4 separate regions of the Homo sapiens genome follow, and regions 1, 2 and 3 are each reported to be linked to region 4. Evidence: microRNA targets listed by miRTarBase, many of them from high-throughput screens and not tested one by one. Region 4 holds a microRNA gene; each other region holds the end of a gene's coding sequence. Distances are from middle to middle.

What was found. Region 4 holds the annotated microRNA hsa-miR-149-5p (UCUGGCUCCGUGUCUUCACUCCC, at 2,262-2,284, shown strand). A microRNA usually pairs through its seed, bases 2 to 8, with sites in the 3' UTR of a target mRNA and lowers its output. Matches are read on the target gene's strand: a 7mer-m8 pairs with bases 2 to 8, a 7mer-A1 pairs with bases 2 to 7 and ends in A, and an 8mer does both.
Region 1: the mRNA of KDM8 is a reported target of hsa-miR-149-5p. Seed matches in the 3' UTR shown: 7mer-m8 at 1,774-1,780.
Region 2: the mRNA of TMEM237 is a reported target of hsa-miR-149-5p. The part of its 3' UTR that is shown has no 7-base or 8-base seed match.
Region 3: the mRNA of FBN2 is a reported target of hsa-miR-149-5p. The part of its 3' UTR that is shown has no 7-base or 8-base seed match.

Annotation. Positions count from the first base shown.
Region 1 is chr16:27,220,300-27,223,410 of GRCh38, reverse strand. KDM8 (lysine demethylase 8) reads right to left here. Exons shown (of 8, transcript NM_024773.3): 7 at 2,926-3,018; 8 at 1,643-2,845. The coding sequence ends at 2,681. Among named protein-coding and RNA genes, the nearest start is that of KDM8, 18 kb to the right of the region's middle. RefSeq lists an enhancer at 331-1,016.
Region 2 is chr2:201,621,630-201,624,629 of GRCh38, reverse strand. TMEM237 (transmembrane protein 237) reads left to right here. Exons shown (of 13, transcript NM_001044385.3): 13 at 308-3,000. The coding sequence ends at 375. It also overlaps the pseudogene ENO1P4. Among named protein-coding and RNA genes, the nearest start is that of CATSPERT, 4.0 kb to the right of the region's middle.
Region 3 is chr5:128,256,853-128,259,963 of GRCh38, reverse strand. FBN2 (fibrillin 2) reads left to right here. Exons shown (of 65, transcript NM_001999.4): 65 at 135-2,055. The coding sequence ends at 509. Among named protein-coding and RNA genes, the nearest start is that of SLC12A2, 170 kb to the right of the region's middle.
Region 4 is chr2:240,453,754-240,456,864 of GRCh38, forward strand. It overlaps MIR149 (microRNA 149), which reads left to right and starts at 2,248; the gene lies at 2,248-2,336. The region is part of intron 1 of GPC1 (glypican 1); the gene reads left to right. It overlaps GPC1-AS1 (GPC1 antisense RNA 1), which reads right to left and starts at 2,947. Exons shown (of 3, transcript NR_161169.1): 1 at 2,844-2,947. RefSeq lists an enhancer at 1,548-2,198.

The DNA.
Region 1 (3,111 bases), not on the chromosome of region 4:
AGCCCAGCCCTTCGTCAGTGGGCAGAGACACGCCCATTGGTAAGCCCAGTACGTTCAGCCACTGCCAGCCCCGGCCGGCCTCACCTAAAGAGGGGTTTTTTGGAAACGTATGAGGTGGCTTGCAGAAATGACAGGAAGGCAGGACCAGTCTAGAATGGGAGACCTTGGAATAAGGGTCATGGATGTCAAGACAATTCTGTCACTGCGGGCGCTGCTGCCACAGGGGGTCGGCTCCAGCCTGTCTGAGCTCCTCCCGACACGCCCTCAAGATGCCGGTCCAGGGAGGAGCTGATGTACAGACCTTCCAGGACCGCATCCCTGGGGCAGAGGTCATTCTCCAGAATGCAGTCAGCTTGCCGTTCTGGAAGACGGGAAGATGGACGCCAGAAGGCAAAAAGCCAACTAGCAAATAATGCCTGCAGGAGGGGCCGGGGCAGCTCCGGACTGTCCCAGTTGTCCTGTGGTTCTGGCTGTTCATTCTTTGAGCTCGAGTCAGTCCTGGCTGGGGACTCAGGAAGCCTCTGGGCACTTGGCCACTGGGGACACCAGCCCTCCTGCTGCTTGTCTCTCTTGCCTCCAACCCCTGCATGATAACACCGACATGAACGTCCCACAACGCACACTAGCACTCACTCAAAACCCTCATGAGGAGTTCCAGATGCTGCGTGTCCTCACCCACAGGGCAGGACATTTCCCCTTTTCCCATTCCTCATCTGACAAGGGACATCTGCTTGAAGCCACCTGGCCAGGATACCACACGTTAATGAACGTGGCCTCCCGTGCCCAGCTTTCTGTCACGCTACACTACAGATGGGCCGTGGGGCTTGCCAGCTGGAGCGGCTAGGCACTGGGAGCTGGGGCCACAGTCCACCTGTCCTTCAGCTGGGGAAGGGGTTTGAGTTACACAGGCGGGCCAGGAGTCACAGCCCACTGTGGCCGGGCCGCCACCCCTCCTCACTAATGGCGAACCTAGTCATGAGGGCGTCCCTGTTTTATGCCTCGCTACTTTCAGGGGTGTTGACATCTGGTGTAAATTCTTCCTGTGAAAGATTAGGTAATTCACTATTAACCATGGCAGGGAATAAACAATGTCCTTGCAAACAGCTGCCCACGGAGCCAAGTGGACTCAGCTTCCAGATAGCTCTTGTGTTTGTCACTCCCCAGCACGCCCATGGCCCCTCGGCAGCCCACTCCCAGGATGAGTATCACGGCCTCTCCCTGCCAACAGCCAGCTTTCGAGAATGCAGATTCTGCTGTGTCTGCTCAAAGGCTGAGAACCCCAGGACCTACACGATAAAGTCAAATTCCTTGGCCTGGGTAGAGGGCATCAGGAGCTGGAGTTCAGCTGCCCACAGCCACTTTCCCATCCCCCTTCTAGTTACCCCAGGGTAGCTACCTCCTGGCCAACCAGAATCTTTCCTGGGGCTGCTTGATTTTTGGCTAAAAGACAAGCAGCTGAGCCAGTGGCAGGATGCTGGCAGGATGGCAGCTCAACCCTCAGGGCTCTTTTCCCCAGGCCTATCTTAGAAGCGGGGAAGAAAGAAGCCAAGGCTGGCATGTGGCTCACACCTGTAACCCCAGCACTTTGGGAGGCCAAGGTGGGAGGATTGCTTAAGCCCAGAAGTTCAAGACCAGCCTGGGCAACATAGCAAGATCCCATCTCTATTTAGTTTAAAAAACAAAAAACAGAGGGCTGGGGAAAATCTTAATGGCCAAAACATAAAACAAACCTGCGTGCACACAAACGAGACACAATTACAGAAAGCATAGAGCCTGGCTCTCCCCCTGGCCTCAAATCCCCCAGGTTTGAGAGTCATTACTTCTGGGGGATGGTGACTAGAAGGTGGTAGGAGGGAGGCTTCTAGGAGCTGGTGATGGTTCGGTGGTTTCTTCACTTGGGAGCCTGCTCCTGGGTGAGTGCGGGTGAAAAGTCATCCAGCAAGACCTTCGCACTTCTCTGCAGGCAGGTAGGTTATCCTTGAGCCATGGGGATGACAGAAAGCTCCCACTGCTCAGCAGGGGTCCCGGCTCCTGCGCAGGTCTCTACGGACTCTCTCCTGTGACCTGGGCAATGCCCAGCTCTCTCCAGTATTCAGGCTGTGGCGTCCAGCAGGCCGTTATGGGAAGGAAGGGCAAAAGGATCAGAGTAATTGGGATCAGTGACAGCGGCTAAGGTTCATGCAGCAGCAGGGGCTCGGCACCGCCTTCTCGGCCCTCGGCAGTGAGGACTGGCCTTGCCCTCTTTTCCATATGGGCACAGCGAAGTGGGGGATCCTGGCCAAGTCACCCAGCAGGTGCACAGCGCGGCCGGGTTTGAATCAGGTAGCCAACCTCAGAGCCCATGTTTCACCCCTGCCTGTGTGACCCACCCGTTTCCCAAAAACATTCGGCTTTCTGATGCCAGAGTCCCCATGCAGGCTGTCTGTCTGCAATGTCCTTCTGGGCTCTCCCCACCTTCCTCTGCCATGCACCCCTGGCCTGGAGTGTGCTCCTTCCTGGGCAGCCCCTGCTCTGTGCCTGTCCAGTGCTGGAGCTCAGCCCCCCAGGGCTGCCACTGGGCAGTGAAGGCTCTTCAGGACACAGGTTCAGTCCTGCTTGTCTCTATAGATTCCAGGACCCAGGAAATTAGTGAACAGATGAATGCTGTCTGCATGTCAGGCCCTTTCAGCTCCTATCCTGGCTACGACCACCAGAAGCTGACCGAGAAGCTCAAATCCAGAGCCCGCACGTAATGCCAGTATTTCACCGGGATGAACAGGATCTCTCCAGGAGACAGGATGCAGGACAGGAATGGGGCCTTGGCAAACTTGGGGAACTTTTCCAGGTCGGGATTCTCCACGTCAACCTGAAGAAAGCAAAGGACGTCATCATCTCCAGGGGCAGTGGGGAGAACCTGCAACGTCACCCCAGACCCCCAGTGCCCACCTGGCTCGTGTTATGGAGAAGGTGCGTGTCATGAGGGTACAGAGCCCCTGACTCCTGCGGGGAATACAGCCGGATGTACTTCCTCCCCATCACCTGGGGAGAGAGACCCTGACAGTCAGCTGGTGGCCTCACTCCACTGCTGCCCCAAGCCCACTCTGGCCTCTGTGCCCTTCCACATGCTGCTCC
Region 2 (3,000 bases), 39 Mb from region 4:
TTTAATGATCTTTGATTCTCTAAGTGACTTAAATTTCCAGGTAGGATTGTGTATATTGTCTCTATTACATTTTACTTTTAAGGGGTCTATAATTTAAAATTTAAATATTTTAAAATGTAAAACTTGTACATTTGTTATCAGCTTACCTTTTAAATCATATTTCACTGTCAAGAAATCTTACTTGAGGGCTTTCTATTAGTATATATTATGTCAATTTTTTAAAGGACTATTTATAAATAAGCTATACAACTCTGTTGGAGGTACTGGGAAACAATTTTAAGTATGATCTGTTCATTTTCTTCTCCAGAGTTAATGTTCTCCTCAGAGGTGGAAGAATATCCTGATAAAGAGAAAGAAATCAAAGCCTCTTCATAATACCAGCTCACCTTTGGAGGAATAATGACCCAGTATTTGTCCCATTTTTGTTTTTAAATGTATTTTTATAAGATGTATACATGTGTATTTGTAATAGATTTTTTGATTATATAATACTGAAACATCTCTCAATATTATGAAAAATGTTAAAATTGTGTTTGCTGTTTATGTCTAAACATTAATTTGTCTAGCATTATCATCTTAATGACAAAGGGAATAATGAACTAGAAACCAGCAAGTGAAAGTGTTTATTTCCTATTTTCTCAAAACAGTTGTATTTATAACTATTACCTTAAAAAGCACTGGTTTAGAAAAAGCCATAACTTAAATAGTGTTATAAAATATATATCAGGTTTAAACATAAATTTAGCGAATATGGTAGAAGGGAAAAAAGCCTTCATTTTTGACCTCCCCTTACTGAATAAATTGAAATATGAAGTTTGTCTTTTCTGAAACTGGCTTAGTGATTGAGTATCATGTAATAATTATAATATAATTTAGCTTGAAAGATGCTCTACATTATGACCAATAAAAAGGGAATGTATGTTTTGTTTGAAAAATTATATAACCTAAATTTTTTACCTAGAAGTAACTAAAAAGTTGCTTCTCATTATAATCTGTACTAGTGGTTCTCATATCTGGTTGTACATCAGGATCATAGAGGGAGATTTTAAAAATCTATGTAGCAAAAGAGGCTGAGCAGGGCAAGGCTCAGGGGAATAAAGGAGAGACCTGTGAGCTTGTGGGCTCCCAGTTGACATCTGCAGTACCCTTTCCTCTGTCCCTTTTTTCTGAGTGACAAGAAATAGGAGTAGAAATTCACCATCTCTGTTCTCCAGCTCTTTGTCAGAGAGGTTTCTGGTTTTCCAGGAAATCCCCCTCTTGAGATGGGTCCTGCACTGGGAAAGATCTCTTCAGAACTATATCCAATGGTACCTCAGCTGTTGTATATGAGACCCTAAAGCTCAAGTTGAGGAGAAGACTAGCTATGGGAAAAAATGTTTCAAAGGCTGTTGAGCACATCAATAAAACTATTGAGCCTGCCCTGATTAGCAAGCACCTGAATGTTATAGAACAGAAGAGGATTGACAAATTGATGATAGAGACAGTTGACCCTGACAATAGGTCTAAATTTGGAGTGAACATTATACTGGGAATCTCTTTTGCTGTTTGTAAGGCTGGAGCTGCCGAAAAGGGATTCTCCCTGCTGTCACAGAATTGTGAATTTGCTGGCAATTCTGAAGGCATCCTGCTAGTTCCAGCTTTCACTGTGACCAGCAATGGTTCTCAATCTGGCAATAAGCTGGCAGTATAGGAGTTCATAATCTTCCCCGTCAGCAAACTTCAGGGAAGCCATGCTCGTTAGAGCCAAGGCTTAGCACACTTGAGCCGTGTCATCAAAGAGAAATGTGAGAAAGCTGCTGCCAATGTGGGGGATTGTGGTAGGCTGCATAATGTCTCCTAAAGATGTCCATGTCCTAATCCCTGGAACTTGTGAATATACTACTTTACTTGGCCAAAGGGATTTGCAGATATGATTAAGGTTATGAACCTTAAAACGGGGACATTATCCTGTATTATCCAGAAGGGTCCAGTGTAATCTTATGAGTCCTTAAAAGCAGAGAAGAAAGCCTTTTATGTCTGTGGTCAGAGAGGTCAGAAGTTATGATATTGCTGGCTTTGAAGATGGAAGAGGGGGCCATGAGCCAAGGAGAGTGATGACCTTGCAGCTGAGTACGGCCCTTGGCCAACAATGAGCAAGGAAATGGATTTCAGTCACATAACCACAAGGAACTGAGTTCTATGAGTATCCCAAATGAGCAAGGAAACAAATCCTCCCCTAGAGCCAAGAAAGGAAGGCAGCTCTGTGGATACCTTGGTTTTGGCCTGGTGCTGCCCATGTCATACTTTTGACATACAGAACTGTAAGATAGCAAGTGTATGTTGACTAAGCTGCTAAATTGGTGGTGATTGCTTATGGCAGCAATAGAAAGCTATATATCCTAGAGAATAAAGAAGGCTAGAGCTGCTGTGGAATGCACTTGGGAAAGCTGGCTACATTGATAATATGTAACTGCCATGGGCATAGTTGCCTTTGTATTCTTCCAGGTCTGGGAAGTACAACTTAGACTTCAGATCTCGTAATGACCCAGGAGGCATATAAACCTGAGCAGCTAGTGGCCCTGTACAAGTCCTTCATCAGGGAAAAACATTGAGTATTCCCTGATTAAGGACTTGTACAGAGGACTCTGTTTTCCCTGGTGTTTCTGGTGTGTCTCAAAAATTGTTTGACTGTGATGACAGGGAAGTTTGGAAGAAGTTCACTGCTAATGCATGTCTCCAGGAAGCAGGGAATGATCTCACAGTGACACTTGAGGCACATTGCTGAGGCCGTCGATGAGAATTCATGTAACTTTCTCCAGCTTACAGTGGACTAGATTGACATGCAAGCTGATCCAGTCCAATTGGTAGGGCATCATGGTTTCTCATTACTCACTGACTTAAAATACTTTTATTGCCATCCTGGTGAAGCACTGCACTGGGTAGATAACACAGGGGCACCTTGCTGATCAGAGCCCTTGGCCAGGTACAAAGAGCTCAGTTTCTAAAACTCTGTCATTTCAA
Region 3 (3,111 bases), not on the chromosome of region 4:
AAGGAGAGTGCAGAAAGCGGGAGTGGGAAGCCACAGCCTGTCCTCGTGACCAAAGCCCCTGCAGCTGATCTCTTTCTAGTCCTCTGCTTGTGCTGTAGAAGCTTGTCCCAAATCATTTCCTGTTCTTCCTCCAGGTTGAACAGATCAGCCTAGAGAGTGTCGACATGGACAGCCCCGTCAACATGAAGTTCAACCTCTCCCACCTCGGCTCTAAGGAGCACATCCTGGAACTAAGGCCCGCCATCCAGCCCCTCAACAACCACATCCGTTATGTCATCTCTCAAGGGAACGATGACAGCGTCTTCCGCATCCACCAAAGGAATGGGCTCAGCTACTTGCACACGGCCAAGAAGAAGCTCATGCCCGGCACATACACACTGGAAATCACTAGCATCCCTCTCTACAAGAAGAAGGAGCTTAAGAAACTGGAAGAGAGCAATGAGGATGACTACCTCCTAGGGGAGCTTGGGGAGGCTCTCAGAATGAGGCTGCAGATTCAGCTCTATTAACCCTTCACAGACTTGGGCCCAGGCTCAAATCCTAGCACAGCCAGTCTGCAGAAGCATTTGAAAAGTCAAGGACTAATTTTAAAGAGGAAAAATAATAATAACTCTTGTTTCTTTCCTCCCTGTCTTAGACTTTGAATGTTGACCCTCACAGGGAGGGATAATTTAGACTCTGGTATGGCCAAAGATTTGAGCACAAAGGCAACCGTGGTTACTGTATTTTTTATATAACTTCATTTTAAAATATATTAAAAGAAACCTAAATGTTCAAGATATCAGCATATGGCACTAAATGCACAAAAATAATGTGAGCTTTTTTTTTTTTTCCTGTTAGCAGTCTGTAACACTTTGGGTATTTTGCTATAGTTGCTAATTAAAAAAATATAGATGTTTATTTATTTTTAATGCAGTAATATATGGAGAAATGAACAAACTATGTAAACAAAAAGGGAAACTCACTTGTTTTTCTTTAGATTTATAAATTTGAGCTATTTTTTTTAGAGGTGCTTTTTAAAAATCCAATAGATACAAGAGATGTTTCCTTTGGTTTTCTGCCAGTCATCCAGCTGATACACACCTGATGATTTTAAAGAAAGCCACACAGAGCTGAATGGGCAGTGTAATCAATAATTTAAAAAACATGAATGTCATTAGATCCTTTATAACGTAGATCGAAGCCAAAGCAGCTCATTTGTGACAACATTTCATATCACCAGACACACCAGGCAACAGAAGTTGAAGCACAACCACTGTAGCAAAATACCTTGACTGCTTGTGAGACCATTAGCATTGCAGGCCAAACCGTACTGTATTTCCTTCTCATAACCTCAAGGAACCATATGTGCTACCCACAACACCTCATTCTTACCCAGGGTGCGCTGCGTCCTCATGGTACTGTAGGCAGCTGAAGAACCGCCGTTCCCTTGAAAGGGAACACCTGGCATTCTGTGGTGTTTCGTGCTGTCTTAAATAATGGTGCATTTATTATGTTCAAGTTATTTCAGGATTGCCATATGTGCAAACAAATCATGCAATGCAGCCAAGGAATATATGTTGTTGTTGTTGTTTTAAACCCATTTTTTTTTTAGAATTTTCATTAATACTGTAGTTATACACCATATGCCTCATTTTATCATAGCCTATTGTGTATGAAAGATGTTTGTACAATGAATTGATGTTTAGTTTGCTTTAGTCATTTAAAAAGATATTGTACCAGGATGTGCTATTAAGAGCACGTATCCATTATTCTTCTCAACCCAAGAACCTGTTTCCTGGACCAGTGACCAAACCTCATATGTGAAATGGCCAAAGCACATGCAGGCTCCTGGTTGTTCCTCTCAAACCTGTGCTGACCAAAGATTAGTAACCAGTTATACCCAGTATTTTGAGGTTTTATTGTTTTTTTAATAACTAAAAAGAAAAAAGGAACAGTGTAAATTTGTAATCAAGAGTTTGTGAGGAAAAACTTATGGTTTTTGGTTTTGTTTGTTTTTGTAGGTCTGTGTATCAAATATGACACTTTTCTTGCAATAAAGCTTATTTTGGGGTATTTTTCTGACTGAAAATTTTATGAGACCACAACGCCTGTTGTATTTGCGGGAGGGGCTGGGGGCTTTGTCTATGGGAACCTGTATTGAAGTAATAATAGAGAGCCAGACACACAGGAAAATAAAGGAATGCTGGCAAATCTGTGAAGCAAAGTCAACATGTGTTCAACTGATGATTATGATTTGAAGTTACATTCAAATAGAAGGACATAAAGTCATTTACTTATGCATAAATTCTAAGCTTCCTGGGACCCATCTTTCTGGAAACTTCAAAGAATTTCTTCACTTCATGCTAATGCCCCCATAAAGTATCCATGAGGAAGTGAAACATTCTTTTAGAGAATCTTACTTCTCTAAGGTAGAAATTTCCTGAACCCAAGTTTTTAAGCAAAGGTAATAGCGGGCATACCCCAGGCCAAAAGGCATTTTCAAAAATAATCTAAACCTTATCTCTTAAAATGGTATACAGTTTATTCACTGGAGAAGTGGATAGATTTAACAAAGTATTTAGCATGAACTCCCTTTTGATACACTGCCAAAACAGGCACAGAAATGTTTCCAAGACTCTTAGAGATTAATTTAATACATGGTTTAAGAATTTATGCGCTTAAATTTTTTATCCAAGGAATAAGTAAACAAGGAAATATTGTGACTGATCTTAGTGCTGTTCTTTGCCAATCAGAAATTAGCTGCATGGAGTAAGAAAAGTATTTGCCTCAAGGCGTTCTTTAAAACTTAACATGCATATTCAGTTTCATCTGGCATCTATTATTGGTACAGCATGAGTATTGTAATATGAAATTACCTGGAACCAAATTTGACTCTAGCCTTGAAAGTTGAGCAACAACATTTAATTTACCTTTAACTGGCTCTTAAAGAAGTTTGAGAATCCACATCTTTAGGTGCTTTACGTAGAAGATAAAAAATGATGAGGGGTTTAAGAGAAGAATGAAGTAGAAGGAAATGACCACTGCAAGACACTCCTTCCAGGAGGAAATGTCTCAGGTACCTTTGGTAGCTTTGTTGCCATTTTTTTACTGTGAACACTGACAAAATCA
Region 4 (3,111 bases):
GGTTTGCCGTCTTCGTCCCTGGCCGCGGCGGCTGGCGACTGGCATCGGGGCGCCCGGGACCCCCAGGGCGGCGACGCTGCCGCCGGTGCCGCCGAGCCTTTGTTCCGCCGCCGGGGCCGGTTTCACGCCTGTCGCCCTCGCAAGCAGCCGCGGGTGACAGGAGCCTTAGCCGGCCTGGGGCGCGGACCCTCCCACCCGGGGCAGAGGTGTCCCTACGACGCCCCTCGGTTTCGGGTCGCAGTGCGCGGCGGAGGTTCTGCGGCGGCGGAGGGGCTCCTTGGCGACGCTGTCATTTGGGTGAAATGGTGGCGGGGGGGCTTCGGGCAGACGGCAGGGGTGTGGGGAGGGGAGGGAAGCACGATGGGGTGAGTCTGGGGGCCGTGGATGCCGTTGACGAGGAGCTGAGATGCCGTGGCCGGTCCACCTCGCAGGTGGGGCCAAGGCTGCCTCTGGCTCAGACGTCAGGAGCCCAGGCGGACAGGGACTGGCCAGGGGCGCAGGCTTCTTAGAGGATGGGGCAAAAGTGAGGAAAAGATCCTCTGCAGCCTGGGCAGTGGGTGGTCCCCAGGAAACCCCCTGGGTCGTTTGTCCAGTGCACCCTCACCCCAGGAGGCTGCTGGACGTGCCGGAGGATGCCACAGCCACCGGAGCTGGTTGGGGTCCGAGAGCAGATGGGCCAGGGGCTGGGGCAGGCTTCGAGAAGAGGGTTCGGGCTTGGGGAAAGCCTTCGCAGCCATCGGCCAGCCAGGAAGGCCCCGTTGCCGGGTGCAGAGCTGAGTAGAGGGCAGGAGCGGGGAGGCCTAGGCTCTTCCCTTGCGTGTTGGGGGGCTGCGGTGCCTGGAGCTCTGCACACAGCCCTACTCCAGCACCGTGGGAGGCAATGCAGGCTGACTGTCCACGCCAAATTCCGGTACCTTAGGCATTCGAGTCTGTTGACACTGAGTGTCTAGGACGAGGCTGTAAAGGTGGATAAAGCCGGCTTTACAGTCTGCACCTCCTGTGTGAGCCGTGGAAGCTTCTGGAGGGATGGGCGTGGCGTGGCGCCATCATCTCTCTGCATTCTCCTTGGGAGGGCTCCAGAGCCACTGGTCACGGGCAGCTGCCAGGCTGGGTCTGGACAAATGAGGTCTGGGTCCATCATTGGGGATGGGGGCCACTGTCAGGATGGGAGTCTCGCCTAAAGCTTTGGGGTGAAGGTGCTGATGACCAAGAGGAAACTGCGGGGTGGGGACATGTCAGCAGGGGACGAGAATGCATGACCTAAAAGGTATCCAAAGTTAAGGCTGGTGGGGGCTTAGTGAGGAGCAGCAGAGTGGGGTGGTCCAGAACCGTCAGGATCGGGAGGGGGAAGATGGAACGAGACAGCAGCTGCCTACGAGCCAGGGAGCAAGAGCTCTGTGCTTTAACCTGAGGAGCAGGAGCCTGGGAACTGGAGACTCTGGGTTTGAGGTGGGGGATGAATCTGCCATTAAACAAATAATCCCCTTCCCCCCCAAAAAAATCCTCAGAGCACTGGGGAAGGGAAGTGTCCCAGTGACTGAGGGAGGGGAGCGCTGTGGAAGGATGGGTCGGCTACAGCAACTTCAGCCCAGGGATCAGGGAAGAGAGGGTCCAGTCCCTGGCCCAGCGGGGAGCAGGCCCGGTGACCTTGACCTGAGCAGCCCCAGGGCCAGAGGGAGGGGTGGGCCGGAAGGGCCCAGATGCCTCCCTGCACGGGGGGAAGGGGATGGGCTGCCGGGACTCACCCCCTAGGTTGGAAAATGCCTCCCTCTGGGTTGGAGGAGGAGAAAGGCCAGGAAGGAGAGGGAGAGGGACATGGGGAGGGTTCCCTCCTGGCCTGAGGCCTCTCTATCCCCAGGTGTTGAGCTGAGAGAAGTGGTGGGGAGGCCCCTGGGGGTGGGGAGGCCCCTGGGTGGGGAGATTTAAGATGACAGCTGGTCTTGGGCACATTGCTCTCCATTCAGAAAGGCCCCAGCCCCTGGCATTCTTCCAGGAGGGGGCTTGCTTTGCCGCCCTGCAGGGGGACTCTGCAGAGCCGGCCTCTGCCATCTCATGTCCAGGACCACAACCTGTGGCCCCGGCCTGCGCCGGGCCGGAGCTCCGCAGAAGGAAGCCAGCGGGAGGCCTCCTGCCTTTGACTGCCGTGCGTCCAGCCTGCAGCGGGCCTCAGGGGGCCGCCTCGATCCAGCCTGCCCGAGGCTCCCAGGCCTTCGCCCGCCTTGCGTCCAGCCTGCCGGGGGCTCCCAGGCCGGCGCCCGAGCTCTGGCTCCGTGTCTTCACTCCCGTGCTTGTCCGAGGAGGGAGGGAGGGACGGGGGCTGTGCTGGGGCAGCTGGAACAACGCAGGTCGCCGGGCCGGCTGGGCGAGTTGGCCGGGCGGGGCTGAGGGGTCGGCGGGGGAGGCTGAGGCGCGGGGGCCGGTGCGCGGCCGTGAGGGGGTGTGAGAGGTGGCTGACGGCGCCGAGGAGCCCCTCAGAACCTGCAGGTGGGGGGAGCTCCCATATCTTACGGGTGTTTCGGGCCTCACCTCTCCATGCCTCTCGTCAGCCTCTCCCGTCTGCGTGGTGGGGGCTGGGGAGTGGGTCCGCCGGGACCTCGCGAGGGAGGGGCACAGGAGGAGCCGGCGGGGGACGCCACCCACCCTCCTCCCTAGGAGTGCTTGAGCCCTAGTCCTGAGTCTTGGACCAGCTCACTCGGTTCCTGTGGCCCAGCCAGCCTGGCCTGGGTGCCCCGTCACAGCTGAGCCCATCTCAGCTGAGCCCAGGGTGTGTCACCGGGAAGCTCAGCTGGCACCTGCCACCCCCTCCCCCAGGCACGTTTCCCTCCCACTGCCCAGCCCATTACCATCATGTGTCCGGCTGACCTGTGCTCTCCTGGTCTGGGCAGCCTGGATGGGTGCACAGGGCCCCATCACAGCCCACACCCTCGGAGAGACGCCTCCTGAGTCTGCTCAGCCTGGCACAGGCCCCAGGAAAGGACCCGGAGGGGCGGTTCCTGCTCTAAATCCTGCCCCCACGGGGGTGGGACTGGGGCAGAATCCCATCAGTGAATAAAGGCTGCAGAGTGAAGGATGGTCCCTGGCGAGTGTACCTGTGTCCCAGTCTTCTTGCCT